Linked DNA regions of Homo sapiens. The protein of the gene in region 4 interacts with the protein of the main gene of each other region in a pairwise test. Each region holds a gene or a part of one and is shown on either strand. Other genes may lie near its edges. The genes, in order: DIXDC1, TTF2, SPTBN1 and CDC5L.

Region 1 (7,126 bases), on a different chromosome or scaffold from region 4:
GTGGCAGTAGCCAAAACCTGTGGATAATTTGCCATCCAAATTAACCATGCCATTCAAAGGCATTGCATTGAAAGCACTGACAAGGATCAATTCCGTGAGTTATTTGCCAGACATGTTGAGGCCAGGGCTCTGTGTAGGAAATGCGGTAAGAGAAAACTCTGTCATGCATGGCTATACATAGTGGCAAAGGATTGAGAACAGAAGCCAACAGTGGGTAGAGGGAAGCCAGGATTCAGAGGGCAGGGTTTCTCTCTGCTGCAGGGTTCCCTTATAATTAACCAATTAAGGCCAAAGCTCCATTCCCTGTGGCAGTTTTCTCTGCCATAGAGAATGAGGTCACAGCCCTAACTACACAGACCTATAAGGCATCTGGGTGATGAAGAATAGCTTTAGATGTACTTGGATCATTCCCAGGAGGTGACTGGATACATGTGTGGTATTTGTAGACTCAGTAGGAATTCTCAGAAGAATTAAAGCGTATTCTGACACTAGCTTTTAAATCACTGTTTACATCCTTATCTCAAGGACTCTAAAAAAATAAATTGATATTACTGGATCGATTAAGCAACCCTGGAGGCTGGAATAGGTCAAATAGGGCCCCATGGACTCTAAAATAACCAATTACACTATTATTCAGTAGCACTAAATGTAATATTGTATGTAAAATGAATTATTTAATATAGAATGTGAAAGAATTATTTAAACTGTAAGGAACCATTCAAATTTAACATATTACTGTCATTGTTATTTAGATGATGTCAATTTTTCAGAGAAATCAAAAGTACTCATTGGCTGTCAGAGTTCAAATCTAACAGAGAGGAACAGACGTACACTAGCTTGTGGAGGGGATGGAGGGAAGTTTACAGAATGGGTAGAAAAATCAAATATCAGAGAAGGAAAAGAGGCACTACTGCATTATTCTAGGGATCAATTAATTAAAAAGTTATGCATCTGTTGTTTTTATGAAGATTCCATTACCACCACAAAAAGACCACTCTCCCATTCCCCTTTTCCCTTATGCCCTTATGTTTTTCAAGAATTGGAGGTCAGGGGATATTTATGGAAGCACCAAAGCATGAAACACACGGCCAAGCCTCTTAGTTTAGGTGGCTCTTCAGTCGAAAGGTTTCGAAGTGAAAATGAGCAGAAAACTAAGATTAGGACCAGCTCTGTGCTGGTTTCCTCCTCTTAAACAGACAGTGGGACCATCAAGAGCTGAGTTTTGTTGTTGTTGTTAAGTTGGGGCAGGAGGTATAAGACAACTAAAAGAGCTTCTGCCACAGTTGGTGAATGAGTCAGACTTACGCAGCTAAAGACCAGGGGCAGCCCAAAGGCAGAGAGTGAGAAAAGAGGAACCAGAATATTGGAATCACTCAGAGGTAGGCTTCCCGGCTCTTCTGTGTTTCAACTCTTAGACTACAGCTCTTTGTTAACAATCCCCTTACGTGTGTTCAGACAGGAAGGATGCAAAGATGAGGTGCCCTGCAGTGCAGACAGGATGCAAGCTCCGCCCTTCAGTGAAGGTTGTGACACCCCTTGGCCAAAGGAAAATTCCAACTCGGTTAGGTTGGGACAGCATTTCTGCAGTTTTCCTCTGTGTTAGGAACAACGCTAGGGCACGGGGGCCAGACCAGGGGAGGGTTCTGTGGCAGGTCAGGCTGCAGAGCTTCTTAATTAGAAACAGGAATTAAGGAAGGAGTCTGTAGTGCAGCTGGAGAAATAAAATCTTATACACGAATTCATGAGAATGGTTATTTCTGGAGAAAAGGCTGGAATGGGTGGGGGGAGCCAAAGGCACTTCAGTCTTGCCTATCAAATGCTCATATTTAAGAAGACAATGTATTCATATGTTGAGTAAAAACTGATTTTAAAAATCTTAAATTTCAGAGAGTCACAGAGAGAAGAAAGAGAGAGATGGAAGGAAAAGGAGCGAGAGAGAAATGAAGAAAGACACAACTAACAGCCTAGGTTTCCCTGGATGCTGGGCTAAGACAACCCGCAAGAGTAGGGCTTAGCTGCAGTCGAAGACGTATGGAGCAAATCTTGAGGGGGAAGCATCCCAAACCAGAATTTCCTGGGTCACAAGAAAAGCAAATGCAATAAACAGAATTGTAAGAGAAACAAGTGGGGAGGAAATGACCCCTTGTCGGCCCTAGCCCATCTTGCCTGTCAGAGTGAGGCCCCAGTTCCTCTGCTCTCACATGGACCGGTGCACGCGCTGGCTCCCTGGACCCAGGACCCAGGTCCCCTCTCGCTCAGTAGCTCCTCTCAGACAACCATGTCCTTGATTGCAGAGAAATCTACTGCCCCGCACTCAGAAAGAGATTCAGACATGAAGAGGGCACTTCACATGGACCATCTACAGTCCCCTGCCCTCTCAAACTTTCTACCAATGCAGTACCACTCCACCCTCCCTTGGCTCCGCTGGTTAGCTCCTGATATAGATGAGCACTTTTGCCAAATATCCAGGGATTCCCTGAGGATTTCCTTGGAGAGAGAAGCTCTAGGGAGGATGGAGACCCCCTCTTCTGGAAGGAGGTGATTTCTGAATTTGTGGTCCTGTCCTCTTGGGCTCAGGTAAGCTACCAGGGAAGGTCATGGCCCAGCTTAGCTGTGGGCAGGCAGCCCTTCTGATTTCTCCTGGTTCACCCATCTGCACCGTAAGTACCACCTTAGCCCCTTTGGGGTTCTGGGGGCGATTTGCTCTGGGGTCCCCAAAGGATGGAGGAGGAGGAGGACCCCTTCCGGAGACTGGGCGGGAGACGCTGGGGGAGGGGAGCTGAGGAGTGGGAGGAGCAGGACAGTTACCTCATTGAAGCCCTCCTGCAGGACGTCCAGTAAGTTCCCTCGGGTCAGGCAGGCTAGCATTGTTCCTGCTGGGGGCTCCCCGGGCGGGGTCTCCAGCCCGGCGGCCGCCGCCGCCTCCTCCTCCTCCCTCTGCACACAAAGGCTCTCGGCTCAGCTCATTGGGATCCCTCCGGAGTCCCGCATGCCACTTACTGGAAACCTAGACTGGAGCCAAACTAGCGGCTTGCACTGGGCATGCTCGCACGGGGGCCTCCGCTGGAGGGGCCCGGCGCGGTCGCGGTTCCTATGGAAACAACTGGGCGCGCACTAGGTTGAGCGGCGCTGCCGGGCTGCCCCCAGCCCCGCTTTCCTGCGGGAAAGCCGCACGGCCAGGCGGGCTGGCGAGGGCGCGCGCTGCACGCCCGCACGCACGCGCACACCCCCCCCCCGCCCGGGCCGCAGCACGGGCGTGTGTGCGTGCGCTACACACACACACACTCACACGGCTTTTAGGCAAACGTGCTGCTGTATGTGCGCGCTGTGTGCATACACACACACACACACATACACACATACACACATACACACACACACGTTGACAAACAGGCGGCCCGGCTGGCGTATGCATGCGCTTGCAGCCGCGCGCGCGCACACACACACCAGGCTTGCAGGCGGGTGTGCCCGTGGGGAGGGTGCGCAACACACACACACACACACACACACACACACACACACTGCTAACTTAAGGCCACAAACGGCCCACCAGAAGGTGGGTGGGAAAGGGAGTGAATCATAGGATTTTCCCCCAGACTAACCGAAAACAGCAACCTTTTTCCACATGGGCCCTGGACAGTGAGGTCAAGCTAAAGAAGAGGAAGCAGAAGGGAAAGAAATAAGAAAGAGAAAGAGCAGAGGAAGAAAGGGGGAAAAGAGGATAAAAAGAACTTTAGTTATTGATGGTATCAGAACACATTCAATAGAACAGTGCTAAACATCACGCAGGATCGCAACAGAAACATCAAGGATGACCAAGCCTTTTCCAAAATTTTCCTATTTCATTCTTTATAAAATAACTGCTAAAATATACAACCCATATTTTAATGTGTTTTAAAATAAATGGGCTTTAATTAAAATAAAGACTGCAAAAATGTCCTGGTGCATTTGAAAGAGGTAAAAAGCTTCCTCAAGTGAAACAGAAAGCTATTCTAGGCTGTTTCTAGCTATTCAAGTCATAGCCTTGATTATTTATTTTTAGGAATACTAGTCATTTGCAACTCAGTGCAAACTCTTGTTTCTATAGGAAAACTCGAAGCTGAAAAAACATTCATTTTACATTCCACCTCGTGATCCCAGATGGAGAGGAAGGGTTTACAGAGCATTAGGGCTCAGAGAAGGTCAGGGCCTTGTCCAAGGACGCAGCCAATCAGTGACAGGCAGCTCAAGGATCTAGGAGTCTACACTTATGATTTTCTGGAAGACCCAGATTCCTCCTCAAATCCTGATTAGTACCTTAGCCAGAAAAGTCAGTAATGGCTCTTATTCAACCTAATGACCTCTTCAGGTCCTTAGAGAAAAAGAAAATCCACCAAGAGCAGCCAGGCTAGCAATATCTTGTCTGAATGTCTAAAGCTGCTAAACACAAAGATGTTTCTGAAAAAGAACACATCTCCCTGACCACAACAGGCAGGGGGCAGAGGGCCAGCACAGGTGTTGAGTGGCAGCTGCTGGTTGAATGTAGTGGGTTCAATTCTGGCTAATGCTGGGGAAAAGCTAAGACACCAAATCATTCTAAACCTGAGCAGCCCACAAGTCCAAAGACCACTGTCCTTCATAATCTAGCTGAGGAATTTAACTGCCAAGAACTCCCTTTGACACTACCACACTTCGTGGTGTAACACCCCCGGAGAGTCACTAACCCATGTCAATTCAACAAGTTCCTTTATAAAGAGAAGCATGAAATTTCCAACAGCACAGACTTGCATGCAATACATCTACGTGCATAATGATGCAAAACCAAAGTACCTACTTGGTGGATCCCTGGGTAGAGGATCCTGATTGGTTGAGAGCCCCTCATGCTTTGTACACAGAGCAGAAAATATTGAGACATCAGAGGGAGATCCTGCTGACAGTTATCTATGCCAGAGGTCAGCGTTTCTCAAACAAGTCTTTGATCAAAGTAGGATCTGTGAGCTCAGTGTTTCTGGAAAAAGACTTATGAAATCACTGAATTTTAAAGCTCCAAAACATTTTGGCCCAACTTCCTTACTTGGCCCAAGTCCCTTATATCATAGAAAAAGCAACCAAGGCTAGGAGAGGTGCTCACAGTCACTCAGCAAGTCAGTATGGAAACTAAGATCTGAACCAGAGGGCTCTGAGGTCTGATCCTGTGCTCTTTGCACTGCCCATCACAGCATGCTGGAGGAATTAAGAGAGAATTGTAGTGAATTGATTTTTTAAAATGTATTATAAGGCATATGGTCCAATATTGCACTATTCCCTAAAAGTCTATAACTATACAAACCACATATTCTAGAGCAATGGTGTTCACTAGGACTGTCTGTGAAGATGGAAATGTTCTATATCTATGCTGTACAATATAGTGGCCATACGTGGCTACTGAGCACTTGAACTACAGCTAATGCAACTGTGGAACCAAAATTTTAATGGCATCTAATTTTGATTTAAATAGTACAATTTCAAAATATTCATTCTATTGTTCCCATATGACTATTAAGATGTGTTCCAAAAATTATACTATTTTACATAGTCTGCCTCTCACATTTGGAAAAAGCACAAAATTCCTGTCAGACCATATAATGTCCATTTTTTTTTTTGCTCAGAAGAGATGTTCACCACAGTTATCTTAGTTGGCCTTACAAAGTGGCTCAGATGAAGAACTGAGCTTTAGCTCCAAACAACACTAACATTTAGTATTCCTTCCATCCTCCCGATCCCACCATGTTGTAATATCAACATAAGAGCTGGGAGAGTATGAGGGCTAGCTACAAGAACTAGGAATAACTGGGACAATGATCAGGCATCCCATAGTGTTTGTATGTGGGAAAACTGCAAGCCATCTGGGTAGCTGGAACCACTTCTGCTGCTGCAGGGCTGTCATTCACTCTGCCTGGAAGCAGAGGCAAAGAAACCCAGCAAACTGCTTTCTGCATATCCCTGCCATGCTGCCTGATTTCTGAACTTATACCTGGCTTCCTCAGTCCTGCATTATTTTGACAATAATGGCAGACATTTCCCCCACAAACTAAAAGCTACCCAAATATCTATATATAACAGTAATAATAGCAAAATTGAGCTTTTACTGTGTGCCAAACCCTGTACTCAGCACTTAGTATTAGCTCATTTGACTGTCACAATTACCATAAACAGTAGGATTTTTACATATAAAGAAAGAGAGGTTTGGAGAAGTAATTTGTCACAGACCCAATAGCTACTAAATGGTGAAGCCAAAGTCCAGGTTCTTAACCATTATGCAATACTGTCATATGAAGAATGCAACATTACATTACATAAGAATGCAAGATTACATTACAAAAATGTAAATCTATTTTTACTTGAAGGAATGAATGAGCCAGTGGGAGAAACATTAATCACGTCTGTTAATAAATAGAGTAAGATGTTAGCCTAAGTAAGACTTTGAGCCTTAAAATAAAACCATCATTTGGTGAAAATATTGCCTGTGACTTCTCTCTGCATAAAAATAAGAAGTGTGAAATTCAAATCTATATAAAATGTAACACAACTATTATGGCCAATAATTCATGACTATAAAGAAACAGAAAGGCAGTTTGAATAAACAAATAATTACAATTGTCAATAAAAATATTTTAAATGACCCTTGGAATAATGTCTTTTTTTTTTTTTTTTTTTTGAGAGAGAGAGAGACAAGATCATCTCACTCTGCTGCCCAAGCTAGAATGCAGTGGCACAAAAAAATTACAAAATTAATACAAAAAAATACAAAAATTAGCCACTCATGGTGGTATGTGCCCATAGTCCCAGCTACTCAGGAGGCTGAGGTGGGAGGATCGCTTGAGCCCGGGAGGTTGAGGCTACAGTGAGCCGTGACTGCACCACTCCACTTCAGCCTGGGCAAGAGTGAGACACTGCCTCAAAAAAAGAGAAAAGGTCCGGGAGCGGTGGCTCACGCCTGTAATCCCAGTATATTGGAAGGCCAAGGCGGAAGGCGGGCAGATCACCTGAGGTCAGGAGTCCGAGACCAGCCTGACCAACATGGAGAAACCCCCTCCCTACTAAAAATACAGAATTAGCCGAGCATGGTGGCGCATGCCTGTAATCCCAGCTAATCTGGAGGCTGAGG
Region 2 (7,048 bases), on a different chromosome or scaffold from region 4:
GTGACCATTATACATGCATTTTTTTTCTTTTTAATCTGAGGCAGGTCAGCTCTGCAATCCTATCTAAAAAGACATGAAAGTAGAGGCAACCAATCTGGAAGAAGCCCTAATAATCCATTCAGTAGAGGTAAGCTGTAGGACTCTCATAAATACATATGACTGGTGAAAATGGGGATTTGGATTCAGTAAAACACAGAAATGTGAGGTTATGAATCCTTGGTATCAGAGATTTGGCGTTAACTAAGACCCTCAAACCAGAGTAAAATCTACTGATTGCAAACACGAGATCTGGTGTTTATTTAGCTTCTTTTTAATTGTTTCCTAAATCTGCTTTATTAAAATGCAGGTAGTTCTATAAGGAAAAACCGATATTTCATTTGGCCTAATTGAAGTGGCCTATAGAAGTGAGTTGTAACTATATTATTGAGTCTGAGATCAAACATGGTTAAAGTAGCCCCATGTAGTTCCTGGCTCTCTCCGTATTTCTCTTTTAAATCCTGTACCATCCTGTGGCTTGTCTTCCCTCTTGGAAGTGGCACTGGAGTTTGGGTCTGAGGAGCCTAGACACTCGGAGGCAGCAGACTCACCGAGATCCAGCACCGTCCACATACTGTCCCAGTTGCTGAGACTCCGCCAGTGTTGCTGTCATCTTTCTTTACTGAAGTCGGTAAGAAAAGCCCTCAGCCTGCTGTCATATAGTGCTCCAGAGGGGCCACCTGAGAAGTCAATTTCACTCTCCTCCAACTGGAATCCAGTCTGCTTGATCAAAGGAAATGCTGTTTCGGTTTTTCTATTTTTGTTTTTTGGTGGGTTGGAGAAAAGGGGGCTTATTTATTTTGCTTTATTTCATATTAATCTTGATAATTCCTATGGCATCAAGAATAGTGTATTTCTATTGTTTATTTTGTTTTAGATTAACTGTTTAAGAAAAGAAAATGATATTTTGTTTAAAAAGAAGCCATTTGTGAATGCTCTGGTACTTCAGAATGTCATAAAGCTAATTTAGTTCTTGGGGTTTTCTGCTTTCAGGCAGTTTTGGGGTTTTGGGTTCCAGTTATAAAAACTCAGATAGTTATACAGACTGAAAAGTTGCCCCTACCTTGGATAGAGGCACATCCAAAATTAAGAGGAGTATTCTATTCATTTAAGGAGCTGTAATAATGTATTCTGATTATCAACATCTCAATTATATTCTAGCTTGGAAAAAATAGAATGATTATGTCATCTGCCTGGCAAGTCTTTAAAAAGTTCCATCATTTGGTTTATCTTTAATGTGGTGAAAAAACTTGCAAGATCACACTTTAATCAAGGTGTCTTGAGGAGTTACTGATGACAAATTACAAGATATTTTGCTCTGTGAAGTGGTAAACAATCAAAACATCATCAACAAGTAACAAGGTTTGCTCCCTTGACTCCCAGCTGCTCCTGTCCTTTTTTGTCTGTTCAGGCCCTGGATCCAATGGAACTGAAGGGTGAAGGTCTTGTCCTTTCCCTGGAAGAACAGCTCAGTGCTTTGACCTTGTCAGAACTCCGTGACTCAGAGCCATCTTCCACTGTTTCCCTTAACGGCACCTTCTTCAAGATGGAGCTTTTTGAAGGCATGCGAGAGAGCACCAAGGTACTTTTTGTCTCCTCTGTAGTAGTCGAGAGACTTCGATTCCTCACACATTTTCCTGTGTGACAGCACTTCATTTGTCCAAGTGGGAACAGCCATTTGCCAGCAGAGCTAGAGCCGTTAAATTCTAGCTGATCAGATTCTCCCTCCAGTCTTAAAGCTTCATTTATTTCACAGATAACACTAAAGCCTTACTACATAGGGGACTTTGAGAGAGTAATTTGGGACAACCCCAGCATTGCACTGAAGTGGGTTTTCTGTCATGGGTCACTGGGGAGCTTGCCAGGTTTGTGCTAGGGACGGGGCCTATGCAAGTGAGCAATTTGTTTAGAGAAAGCTTAAAAGGAAAACAAAGGCTTGACTCTAGAGACTGTGTCATACATGCGAGCGCCAATTGCTCTGACTTTGAAAGGCTTCCACATGTGAGTAGTGTTTCCTACATAGCCTTCTGTCTTCATTAGTCATTCTGCTCTGTTTTCGTCAGAGCTTTTTAAGGCAGAAACATTCTGCTGGAGGAAGGCTTAGATATGCCGTAACCTGAATCCTGCCTGTCTGCTGGCTCGGAATGTGCTTCATCATCCTGCCTGTCTTGAAAGTGAGGCTTGTTTCTCTCTTAGCATCTCAAGCTGCCGTTCTTGGGCTCAACCTCTCTTCAAAGGCTTTTTTTGAAAAAGTGTATTAATAACTAGAAAGGTCACTTCCAGGGGAATGGCATTATTTTTTAAAAGGAATGCTGCCTTTTAATTAAAATTTGAAAACATTTACCTAGGTCTTTACCACTGATAGCTGAGAGAAACATAAGAAGAGCATCCCATGTGGCCAGAACACACATGCTAGTGCCTTCAGAGTGAGCTATTGGGCTAAAATTTAAATTCCTAATCATTTGTGTTCCTTGTTTAATTAAATGCAGGTAATATTTATTCACAAGTTTTCTTAACATATGTCCATTAATAGTTCAAACCACATACGGTTGTTTCAAGTAGGGAAGGAGGCTTCTTACTGGAATTTGACCCCGGCTCGTGGGCCATAAATCCAGCCCTCCTGCTGCAGTTTTCTCAAAACACCATGGCTAGCTTTTTCATGTGGGAGTCACAGCGCCTTCCACAATCTCAAGTTGCCAAGACACCAGGCACATCAGTGTCTCTGTTCTATTGTTAACTAAATAACAGATGTAGCTGCTTTTCTGTCTGCTAATTTGAATGGTACAGTTCTGTGACTCACTTCCTGCCTAGGCACCAGAATGTTTGTTAAGATTGGAAAGCAGCCCCATGTGGTGACCACTGTAATGACATCCTAGAATGTGGGAGCTCAGGGCACCTCAGAATTTATCTGGCCTAAGTCCTTCTTTTCACTGATGAGGAATCTGAGTCCCAAAGTGGTCCAGCCATATGAGGACAGAGGAAGAACTTCTGTATATTTGTCTCCTGATTGACTTACAGCCCAGTTTTCTTCCTTCTCCAGCATTCTGGGGGTGAACTCTGGGGCCCTTAGAGGCTCTTGAAAGGTTTTTCACATGAGCAGCTGGGAAGAATGAGCCCAGCTGCACTCCAAAGTCATGCCCCACGTGTTCTTACTGACAGCTCCCCTGTGGACTCAAGTGCACCCTAAGGGTTCTTGGGGAATACCCAGGGAGCCTGTTCGGAAGCTTTAACAATGGTTCCTCCGTCTGGACAGGTCCTTTTCAACAACATTTGGAGCAGGCCATAAAGTGGGTAAAGCTCTTTCACTTTCTTCTTCAGCAAACATTAGGAGAGTATCTTCTCTGTTTTGGCCATGTGTGTACTCACAGCCCCTCACACATGGCCGAAACAGAGAAGTTACTTTCCTAATATTTGCCTCCTTGGAGTGTCTCAAGTCCTGGAAGCAAGAGATAATAAGCAATTAATATACAGTATGACAAGGACCGTGATAATAGAAACAAAAGGTGCTATGATAGTACTTGGGCAGTGGGCACCTAACCTGTACTTTGGGGGTTGGGAGGACCTCCAAGAAGAAGTGACATTAAGCTGACACAAAAGGGTGTTCTAGGCAGAGGGAGCAGAATGGACAAGATGGCCAGTGTGTGATTTATGGGAAGAATTTTGGTGTGCTTGCTGTGTCGTTTGAGGAGGGCATGGTGAGAAACGAACCCAGAGAAGCAGAGGCTGGAGCAGCAAGAATCCGGCAAGCTGCCTTGAGGAGCTTGGCCTTTATCCTCAGTGGGAAGCTATGGAAGGGCTTTAGCCAGAGGGGTGAAGTGACAAACTCACATTTTAGAAAGAGCTTTCTGGCTGCAGAGAGGAGGGTGGAATAAAGACAGGTGAGGCCAGAGCACAGACGCCATGTAGGAGGCTGCTTCGCATGGCAGGTGAGGGGAGATGGAGAAAAGTGAATTGCTTAAACATACAATGTTGATGTAACCTTTTCCCAGATTTCATCTCTGTTGGCAGAATTGGAGGCAATTCAAAGAAATTCAGCATCCCAAAAGAGGTAACTGCGTTTTCTCATTATCCAAGTATTGGTCATAATTATGTGAGAAAATTTGATATTGCCAAGAGTTATAAATCAAGGACTGTGAGTCATGCTCAGCAGAAAGCACTGAGGTTATAGCACACATTCCCTGTGATTTCTAATTAAAATATTTGTGGTACAAATTGAAAAGGAGATCCCTAGAGGATCAGGGTAAGCGAAGCATCTGAAAAAGTGTTTAAAAGTAGAGAAGCATATAAAGAAAAGCAAGCGAGTGAGGAGGCTCCAGCAGTGCTGATAACGTTCTTAAGCTGAGTACTTGGATACAAGGACTCATTTGTTATACCTGACATATGTGCTATACACCTGCATTATTTATAAAATAATTCAATATAAAAATTTAGAACTCGAATTAAGACAGCGTGGGGGCAGGGAGGAGCCTGTTGTTCTGGCTGGCACAAGAAGGGTGGTCAGTGTGTCCCTTTTGTGCAGGACCACAGATTTCTGGATGAGCACTAGGACCCCAAATGAAAGAAGGCTGGAGTCATCACTTTACTCTAGCTACCATTTTTTTCTGACTTCATTTAGCACTAAATAAATTGTAGAAAGGACCTAGAAATAACTGGAAGCATTATAATCTTCAGATATGACCTAAATGTGTGCCTTCTCCCTTAGGTAGCAGAAGGCCTTTCCTTGTCAACATTTGATAGCTAACCTTAAGAATGATGAGGGCATTAAAGCCCTGCAGATGAGTCTGTTTAATCTATGTTAGGGTATTTTTTTATTTTATTCTTCTTTCCAGTGTCATTGTCTCTCAGTGGACCAACATGCTGAAAGTTGTAGCATTGCACCTGAAGAAGCATGGACTGACTTATGCCACCATCGATGGCTCTGTCAATCCCAAGCAGAGAATGGACTTGGTAGAGGCATTTAACCACTCCAGAGGCCCTCAGGTACAAGCTGGTCACATCAGAGCCGCATAATTAACTGTTCTGAGTTATACAAAGAGAATTCTTTTTGTTTGGTTGGTTTTTGTTTTTGTCTTTTTGAGACGGAGTTTTGCTCTTGTTGCCCAGGCTGGACTGCAATAGTGCTATCTTGGCTCACCGCAACCTCCGCCTCCCGGGTTCAAGCGATTCTCCTGCCTCAGCCTTTCAAGTAGCTGGGATTACAGGCTCCTGCCACCAAGCTTGGCTAATTTTTGTATTTTCAGTAGAGATGAGGTTTCACCATGTTGGCCAGGCTGGTCTTGAACTCCTGACCTCAGGTGATCCACCTGCCTTGGCCTCCCAAAGTGCTGGGGTTACAGGCGTAAGCCACCGTGCCCAGCCATATAAAGAGAATTCTGATATGGCAACTTAAAAATATTTACAGCCTTGATTCCTCCGAGTGTTTAGAATTTATTAGACATGTATTGGGATACTTTTAAAGAGCACAAATATTCTAAAAAGAATCAAATATGAGGACTAAAAGGAGATTAACAGCAGAGCTGGTTAGGTTGAGGGGAATCTTTGCAGAGGAGGCAAGCTTTGAAGGATAGGTGGGGTTTTGGTATGAGGAAATATGGAAGGAAATGAAAGAACACAGGCATCTAATTATAGATAATAAAGATTTGGAAAGCATTAGTAGAATGATAGGCAGGAGAATTATTGTAGCAATGGAGGGGTAGGGACTGATGAAATAAACATAATCTGGTTAATTGAAAGTTTATTGAGCTGACCATCCCCAGGGTTCTAAATTACAGTATTTATATATTTTGGCAAGCACTCAGTTAATTTTTTGAGGTTGACTCACACACACACAAAATGTGATGTGAGAATTTTCTCAAAAGTGAGACATGGGAGATAGCATTATAATGTTAAAAAAAAAAACAATTTATAACAGCAGAAGGAAATTTGATAGGAACACAGTGCTTATCTGTATTGATTGTGGACTTAAACCTGAGACCGAGATGTGTTACGAGACCAAGTCTGTTTAAAGTTAATGTTGTGTTTCCTTTTGAAGGTAATGCTAATCTCTCTCTTGGCCGGAGGTGTTGGTCTAAACCTGACTGGAGGAAATCACCTCTTTCTTTTGGACATGCACTGGTAATGATTCCGGATTTGTCCTGGGTTGTCACAGCACATCAAGGAGGCCAGTGGGCTACAGGGGCAGCAAGAACTGACTTCTTATGTTGATTGCTGTGTTCGTATTGCAGAGATGCCTTGCTTTGTATGTGTCTATAGATACAGATCTAAGCAGGGTATAGGGCTAGCTGACTCCCCTGAATTCCTGAGCTAGCAAGCCTTCAAATGACTACTCAAAATAGTTCATTCACGTTATTGTTAGTCTAACATCTGTTTCCATGGAAACGGGGAGCATAGCTTTTCCTCATGGCTAAGAGTTAACCTTGCTCAGTTTTACCTCTTCTCCAGAATACTGTATTCCAGACACACTTGTTGGGGTCCAAGGAAATTTCAACCTTTGAAAAGAGGGAGAAGCATTACTCCAAAAAGAAAAGGAATAGGGATTTTCTAATTATGTTAGAAATACACTTAATACCTCACCCTTGGATTCATTGTATGTAGTGTTAATACCAGGAGTACAACCACATCTTTCGTGGCTACAGAATGAATGAGTTAGTGTGTTGCTAACAGAAAATCTCATAATGAGTACCAGTTTCTGGTTTTCCAGTTATGCCAATCAAGGATTGCTGCTGGGGATTGTCATTGGTCCAATTCTCCAGACAGCCCAGATGGGTACAAATAGGTCAACCTGTTATCATCTTCCAGGAGAACGGGTTTAGTTCTTACTTGGGACTCCTCTGTACACGTGAGTGAGGAAAGCATACTAGGAATCATGCTTTTTTTTTTTTTTCAGAGATAGAGAAATGTTATCCAAGATTTTAAAGAGGTAAGATGAGAAACTAATTTGGAGTTACAATGGGAATCAATAAAGAAGGAAACAAATTAAGTCTCCTTAATCGAATCACAGAATATTCAAGTT
Region 3 (2,668 bases), on a different chromosome or scaffold from region 4:
AAAACTAGATGTATAATAAACCCTTTAAATCATTGGTAAGTGTACAAGTGGTGGAACTGAAGCATTTACTGGACAAAGTAATGTTACTCTAATGGTTACTTGCTCGTGCGTTGCCACACTGTGTTATAATTTGCTTCATTTCCTTGCTATTTGATACATAGTGTGCATTTCTCTGTCACTGTAACTATTGTAATGACAAATTTTCATCTTACTGCACAATCAAAATGACATTGATAGGAATGAACTCCAGAGGCTGGGCCTGAACAGGGAGGTGGTCGCTCAGGCCTGGTGCTCAGTCGTACGACCTGTACCTCTCAACTTTTGCCCTATCTGTTAAATATATGCTATGTCATTAAATGCTTTTAAATCTAGCACGGTGACTAGTTGTTGTTCTTCCTCTGCTGCGTGTGCATGCCCAGTAGGGAAACTGCAAAGGGAGAAATGACAAACAAGAAACATTTTACAACCAGTCTGGGCTCACTTTTGCATTTTTTATGCATGTCTGGTGCACAAGCTTTGAAAACTACAGCAAACAGTAATAAATGTGACTGTTTTGTAGTTATACATTCAGGCTTTATCTTTTATTTATGAAAAAGTTACCAGAGCACTTGTGAAACCTGAACTCTGAGATAGGGGTTGGCAAATTTGTTCTGTAAAGGGACAGAGATAGTAAATATTTTAGGCTTTGTAGGCCGTAACTGTCTCTGTTGCTCAATTCTGCTGTTGCGTAATACAAAGGCAGCCATTGACGGTATGTGAATGCCTGGGCATGGCTGTGTTCCAGTAAAACTATTTAAGGACATAAATTTGAATTTCATATAACTTTGACATGCCATACAATATTTTGATTTTCTTAATGATTTCAAAATGTAAAGTCTATTTTATACAGATCAGACCAAAAAGAAGAAAAAAAAAAAACAGGCAAGAGGTTAGGTTTGGCCCATGGGCCATAGTTTGCTGACTTCAGCATAGAGTCGTGGGTTATTTACAAGTGACATACTTTTCCTGGGTTATCTGGGTATGTTGACTCCATGCCACTTGCATAAAGCAGCAATGGATATTAGTATTATGGATGTCCAGTAAGTTATTCCACAAAGACCATGCCTAAGGTGGCATCAGCCCTGGGCTCCACAGCTGCGTGGCATCAAAGCTTTCTCTTAACTCTCTTACCTCTAGGCAAACTGAGACCTCACCATCCTCTCCCCTGCTTCCCACGACAGTCCTTTGCCCTTGCCATGCTCAGGGTTGGAATCAAGTTGTTCTATTCTCAACAGACCAAAATGTTTAGTTAAGGCAAAGTATCTTGGAAACAATTGTGATTAATTACAGTCTTGTACTCTTGACAAAGCTGTGCAGATGGCAATAAGTTCATACCAGCAATCCTGGAGTCCCATAATAAATACGTACATGTGGAACATCGTGCACATAATTTCAACAGTTCGCAGATCTGTAGTTATGAAGCCAGGGTTTGGTGGTATTTGCTCTCTCTTGGTGCATTTGATAAGGATCCACTGAGGCCTGAATGTGGAAGATGATGGGCAGCGAGAGGAGCGTCAGAAGACCCCAGTCAAGACGTGTTCGCCATCAGAGGTTACAGGCCGCACAGCCTGATGAGCTTCAAGCCTGGCAGGGTAAATAGTTTTTGGGTTTTTTGTTTTTTTTTTATTCTTCCACTATCATGTTTTTTGAGGATTTTGCATATTTCTTGTTGCCATAATGCTGTGCTATTTTACCCTGATTTTCAGTGATACAATATGGGTGACAATACTGGCCCCTCCATAAATCTGAAGAGTAAGAAGTAGTGAAAATAAGGCTTAGGATATGAAATGGCGTTGTCACTTGAATCAAGGCCACTTTTTGTCCTACTTGAGCATCTCAAGTTGGGATGCATCTTCTGATGGCACTTCCGGAACTGGCTGTGGTTTTTTTGGGTGTACCGAGAGTGCCAGTGACTGTGCTTCTTACAATTCCTGGCATCTTGAGTAGGTGAAACACTGTATCAGACTGGGTGATGGGCACATTGTCATTTCACCAAGTTCCTGGAACTGTTAGAATTGCTTGTGTATGGGGATCCTATGTTAGTTCCCCTGGATACATTGTTTTATCAGTCGGAATTCTTAAATAAAGACATACTTCCCTTCATGTAGTGGTGCAGTCCATGTAGAAAAGGCAGGATCAATGCTGGAGTCTTTCCCATTATTTGCATTACTTTCCTATAATCAGCGTTATTTATGAGTTGGTTCCTATCCTCTAAAGATGAACAATTTTTTAAATATTATGAATTTATGGGCTTAAATATATTTGAGTTTTCTGGTGAAATCCTCGTTTTTTGGTGAATATGTTTTATAATTTTGAATTGACCTTTCTAAACATGGTCCATAACACAAAAACATATTTTAACAAAGAAGAAAAAAGACTTCTTTCCATCAAAGCTCAATAGAGATTTCTGTCTATTGAAGATCATGGTGAAATATTTCATTTTCCACTAGAATAGTTTAAAATTATTCATTTGCTTTATTCCATGTTATAAAAACTCAGAATAGCAATACTAATACTACCACCACCAATAACTGAGAACAGTTTTTTTTTTTTTTTAACTCTTTATTTTGCAATACTTGTATACTGACATGCAGTTGTAAGAAATAATACAGTGCTGTTTACGCAGTTT
Region 4 (4,268 bases):
AATTCTGAAGTACAGTTTATATTCTGTCACAGGATTAATTAATTGCCGGTTTTCATACTCTAGAAGGCTGAAACTGATGTTTATCTTCATTGACAAATTTACCCACCATCTGTGGTTTTTCAGTTGTTTATTTTAAATGATATCGATCTTACACATTCTGTGTATAAAGACCTTAACTCCACAGGACGGACATTTTAGAGTTTAAATTATTAAGGCTATCATTCTTTTAGTAATGTCATATTTGCAAACTTTTTTAGTTTTGGCCTTTAATTTAAAAAGCCTAATTTTAAAGTGCTGCCTGTGAGTAACTCTTGAATAAAAACAAAATATAAAAAATTGAGAATGTAGCCTTTTGTTTGAAGTAATTAGATACTTAAGAGTGCCTGCAAACCAGCAGCTATGTACTCTGTGTCATATTTAATGAGTAACTCTTGGGTAATCAAAATGGTGATGCAGTATCTTAAACACTTAAGAGGCAGTTCTTTGTGGCTTTGTTAGTTTCAGCAAAGAGTGGTCATTTCTGTATACACTGACAAGTTAGATTAACTTTTTAGTACCTCAAATTTTTTTTTTGTTAATATCACTTTAAAGAAGGTCTCTTGTCTGCCAGCTACTTAAATAATTTATGGGTCAGGGCTTAAAAGATTTAACTTCCTTGCCCCATTATTTTCTTATAAGTATTTTTTGACAAAGGCATTTTAAAAGTTAATTTCAAGAAGGCCATCAAACTTAAAGCTCTATGTTTAGCCTAAGAAGTCAGTTACATCAGTGTAGAATTTGGGGAATGGATAGAGGTGGAGATATTTAATTTTATATAATTCATATAAATTGATTTAGTTACAGTATCAGTTGGCTACAAGCTCATTATAGACTAGCAATGTTTTGACATCACCAAAAACGTTTGCCCAGTCTTAGAATACTAGGGACTATAGGAAGGGAAGGGATTCATTCATTCATTCGATATTGAATGTATACCCTGTGCCAGAGTCTTAGAGAGAGAACAACAAACAAAATAGGCCTAGTTCTTGTTTAGTAGAGCTTATAGTCTTTTGAGAATGACAGACAATTAAAATCCAAATGTTTATTTGGTGATTCTTATGTGTCAGACACTTAAGTGTTGGGAGATAAGCAGTTATTAAGACAGAGTTCTTGCTCTCATGGAGGTGACATTAGTGGGGAGGAGATACTAAGTATGTCCAGGGAAAGTATCAGACCATGAGTTTTAGATTCTGTGGAGGAAATTAAAGTAGGGTGATTATGAGATAGTGAATGAGTGGCTATTTTAGACTGGACGATCAAAGAGACCTCTTGGAAGGCAGCTATGCTCACCACTATACCACTGCACTGTGCCGCACCGTACCACTATAAGCTGCACGGCCAAAGAGACCTCTTAAAGAAGTAACATTTAAGATAACATGTGATTGACATTTTAGAATGGGCTATCCTTGTGAGATTCAAGGAAAGAACATCCTAGGTGGAGTGAATAGCAAACATAAAGCCTCTTTTGTATGTTTGAGGAACAAAAAGGACAATGCAGCTAGAGTGTCAAGAATGGCATTTCTGTATATAAGACCTCGTTGTATAGAGCCACATAAATAAGGCTATAATAAGGAATTTGGATCTTACTTTAAATATGATAAGAATCGATGAGAAGATCTAAGCAAAGGAATGACATGATCAGATTTGGTTTTAGAAACATCACTATCTCCTTAGTGTGTAAAATCTCACCAGGCTGGAGATAGGGAAGCCAGTCCAATTAGGAGCCTGATGCAGTGATCCAGACAAAAAAATAATAGTGATTCTAACTAGAGTCCAGGTAATAGTAGTGGAGATATGTGGAGAGACATGATAGGTATATACTTAATAGTCTTATCAGACGATAAATTGATATTTTCCTGGTGTGTAGTCACTTAATTCAAATACTTTTTTCAGTAAGTTCTGGGTTTTCTAGGAAAAACTTCAGTATCATCAGTGAATAATGATAGTGTTTCTTCTGATAGTTTTATTTCACTTTTATTGCATGTTTTGTTATCTGAAATGTTTAGGACAATGTTAACAATAATGATGTTAGACATTTTTTTTTCTTATTTTAATGGGAATGTCCATAGTTTTAAGTTTGCTGTTGGGAGTTAGATAGTCTTTATCTGAAAGACAGTGTCTCTCTTTTAGTTTTTAAAGAGTTTGAATTAGAAATGGCTCTGGAACTTTAAACAGTATACCATTTGGGCATCTATTAAAGCATTCATATAATTGTTCTCATTTGATGTTTTGATGAGGTATATTAATAGATTTTCCCACATTAAATCATCTTTGCACTCCTGGAATCAGGTAGATTAATTTTTAAAAGAAATTTTAAAGGATTTATAGTTTATTTGCACTTTTTGTAGACTTGAATTATATGGATTTAAAAGTTGATCTAATATTAATAAAGGCTCACTTTGTTTTCAAAATTTGAAGTAATTCACATACTTATAGCCTAAAAAAATCGGCAGGAATTACAAAATTTCAAAACTGGCACATTGTAAACTGCATATGCATTTGCCAGGTAGTGGTGCCACTTGAAATGGTGAACAGACACACTGTTATCCTTTGTCAGTATCCTGTAAAGCCCAGGATTCTTTACCAGCACCATACAGCGATTTTGGTGACTATTTTAACATTCACACTGAGGCCAGGGGTGGTGAGTCATGCCTGTAATCCTAGCACTTTGGGAGGCCAAGGTGGGAGGATCATTTGAGCTCAGGAGTTCAAGATTAGCCTGGGTAACATAGTGAGACCCTGTCTCTATTAAAAAATAATAATAAAAATAACATTCACATTGGTATTGTTCACTAAGGTATTGGTTGTTAAGGCATTCATTAAGGTATTGTTAAAACTTGTGTTAAGCATGTTAAAGTCTCAGTAACTTTGGGATAGAAATAAAATGTGATAAAAAGCTGAAAGAAACCACCACAAGGGAGAGTCCTTTTTGAAATATTAGAGACATAATGCTGTCTAATAAAAAACGACATCAAAGAAAAACTACACTACAGTGACTGCAGACTTAATGTTGGCCAACCATGCATCCTCCCTAGAAATGCATTTGAATTTGATTTACTAATCTTTTATTTAGGAAATTTACATTTTTACATTAGTGAGATTGGTCTTTTGGGCTATTGTACTTTTTTTTTTTTTTTTTTGAGATGGAGTCTTGCTCTCTCACCCAGGCTGGAGTGCAGTAGTGCAATCTTGGCCCACTGCAACCTCTGCCTCCTGGGCTCGAGTGATTCTCTGCCTCAGCCTTCCAAGTAGCTGGGACTACAGGCATGTGCCACCGCACCTGGCTAATTTTTGTGTTTTTAGTAGAGATGGGGTTTTGCTATGTTGGCCAGGCTGGTCTTGAATTCCTGACCTCAGGTGATCCACCTACCTCGGCCTCCCAAAGTGCTAGAATTACAGGTGTGAGCCACCATGCCCAGCCTGGTTATTGTATTTTGATATTGGGATTTTGCTAGCTCTCTAAAGTAAATAGGATAACTGTATATCTTTTTCTGTGCATTAAGCAGTTATAACATGGGAATGATTTGTTCATGAAAGGTTGAAAGTCTGTACTTACAGAACTTTTGAGTTCACAGTGCTTTCTGGAAATAATTTCTTTATAACTGTCAGTTTCTTTTGTGACTATTATGTTACCTATTTTTAAATTTAAGCAACTTTAAATTAAAAAAATTGTTTTTAAAATATATTCTTCCTTTTATGTTTATTTAGTAAATTTAGGTAATGTATACTTTTTAAGAAATATTTTTATTTTGTTCAAATTTAAACATCTGTTGTTAGCAGAAAATTCTAATAGCAATTTCTTTTCTATTAACTTTGCCATTTCTAAGTTATAGGAAATTTACCTTCTCTTAATTCTACCACTTTTTACTTGACTAGACTTGTTAAGGGTATACATTTTCTGTTCAGAAAACTAGTGTTTTTATTGGCTTATCTATTGTGATTTTGTTTTAAAATATGTTAATTTCTCAATTTAGGCTTATTATTTTGTTTTCTGTAGTTTTTTGACTTTTTGAGACTGATGCTTATTTTTTGCTTGTATACAAATGAATGTGTTGAAGACTTTTGAACTGTCCTTTGAGTTCAAATATGTTCACATCCCAGCCATTTTGATATGTAGTAGTCTTGTTTTCTAAGTAGTATATCATTGTGTTTTAAATTTCTGGTTCAATAATTAAGTTTTTCAAAATATCTGTATGGTTGGCTTAAATTTTTTTTTTTTTTTTTTTTGC

Evidence for each region.
Region 1: the proteins of CDC5L (region 4) and DIXDC1 interact in a two-hybrid assay, tested with the Homo sapiens proteins (2 studies listed by BioGRID and IntAct).
Region 2: the proteins of CDC5L (region 4) and TTF2 interact in binary tests that used the Homo sapiens proteins (3 or more experiments, as listed by UniProt).
Region 3: the proteins of CDC5L (region 4) and SPTBN1 interact in binary tests that used the Homo sapiens proteins (3 or more experiments, as listed by UniProt).

What each region holds. Positions count from the first base shown.
Region 1 is NC_000011.10:111,933,242-111,940,367, reverse strand, and holds the start of DIXDC1 (dixin), read right to left. Parts: upstream 3,026-7,126; 5' UTR 2,869-3,025; coding exon 2,809-2,868; intron 1-2,808. UniProt on the Homo sapiens protein: Positive effector of the Wnt signaling pathway; activates WNT3A signaling via DVL2. Regulates JNK activation by AXIN1 and DVL2.
Region 2 is NC_000001.11:117,091,284-117,098,331, forward strand, and holds part of TTF2 (transcription termination factor 2), read left to right. Parts: intron 1-44; coding exon 45-127; intron 128-533; coding exon 534-667; intron 668-1,447; coding exon 1,448-1,618; intron 1,619-3,359; exon of another isoform or gene 3,360-3,445; intron 3,446-4,025; coding exon 4,026-4,084; intron 4,085-4,865; coding exon 4,866-5,016; intron 5,017-6,067; coding exon 6,068-6,150; exon of another isoform or gene 6,151-6,922; coding exon of another isoform or gene 6,923-6,923; exon of another isoform or gene 6,924-6,955; intron 6,956-7,048. UniProt on the Homo sapiens protein: DsDNA-dependent ATPase which acts as a transcription termination factor by coupling ATP hydrolysis with removal of RNA polymerase II from the DNA template. May contribute to mitotic transcription repression. May also be involved in pre-mRNA splicing.
Region 3 is NC_000002.12:54,669,305-54,671,972, forward strand, and holds the end of SPTBN1 (spectrin beta chain, non-erythrocytic 1), read left to right. Parts: 3' UTR 1-2,142; downstream 2,143-2,668. UniProt on the Homo sapiens protein: Fodrin, which seems to be involved in secretion, interacts with calmodulin in a calcium-dependent manner and is thus candidate for the calcium-dependent movement of the cytoskeleton at the membrane.
Region 4 is NC_000006.12:44,446,704-44,450,971, forward strand, and holds the end of CDC5L (cell division cycle 5-like protein), read left to right. Parts: coding exon 1-8; 3' UTR 9-3,722; downstream 3,723-4,268.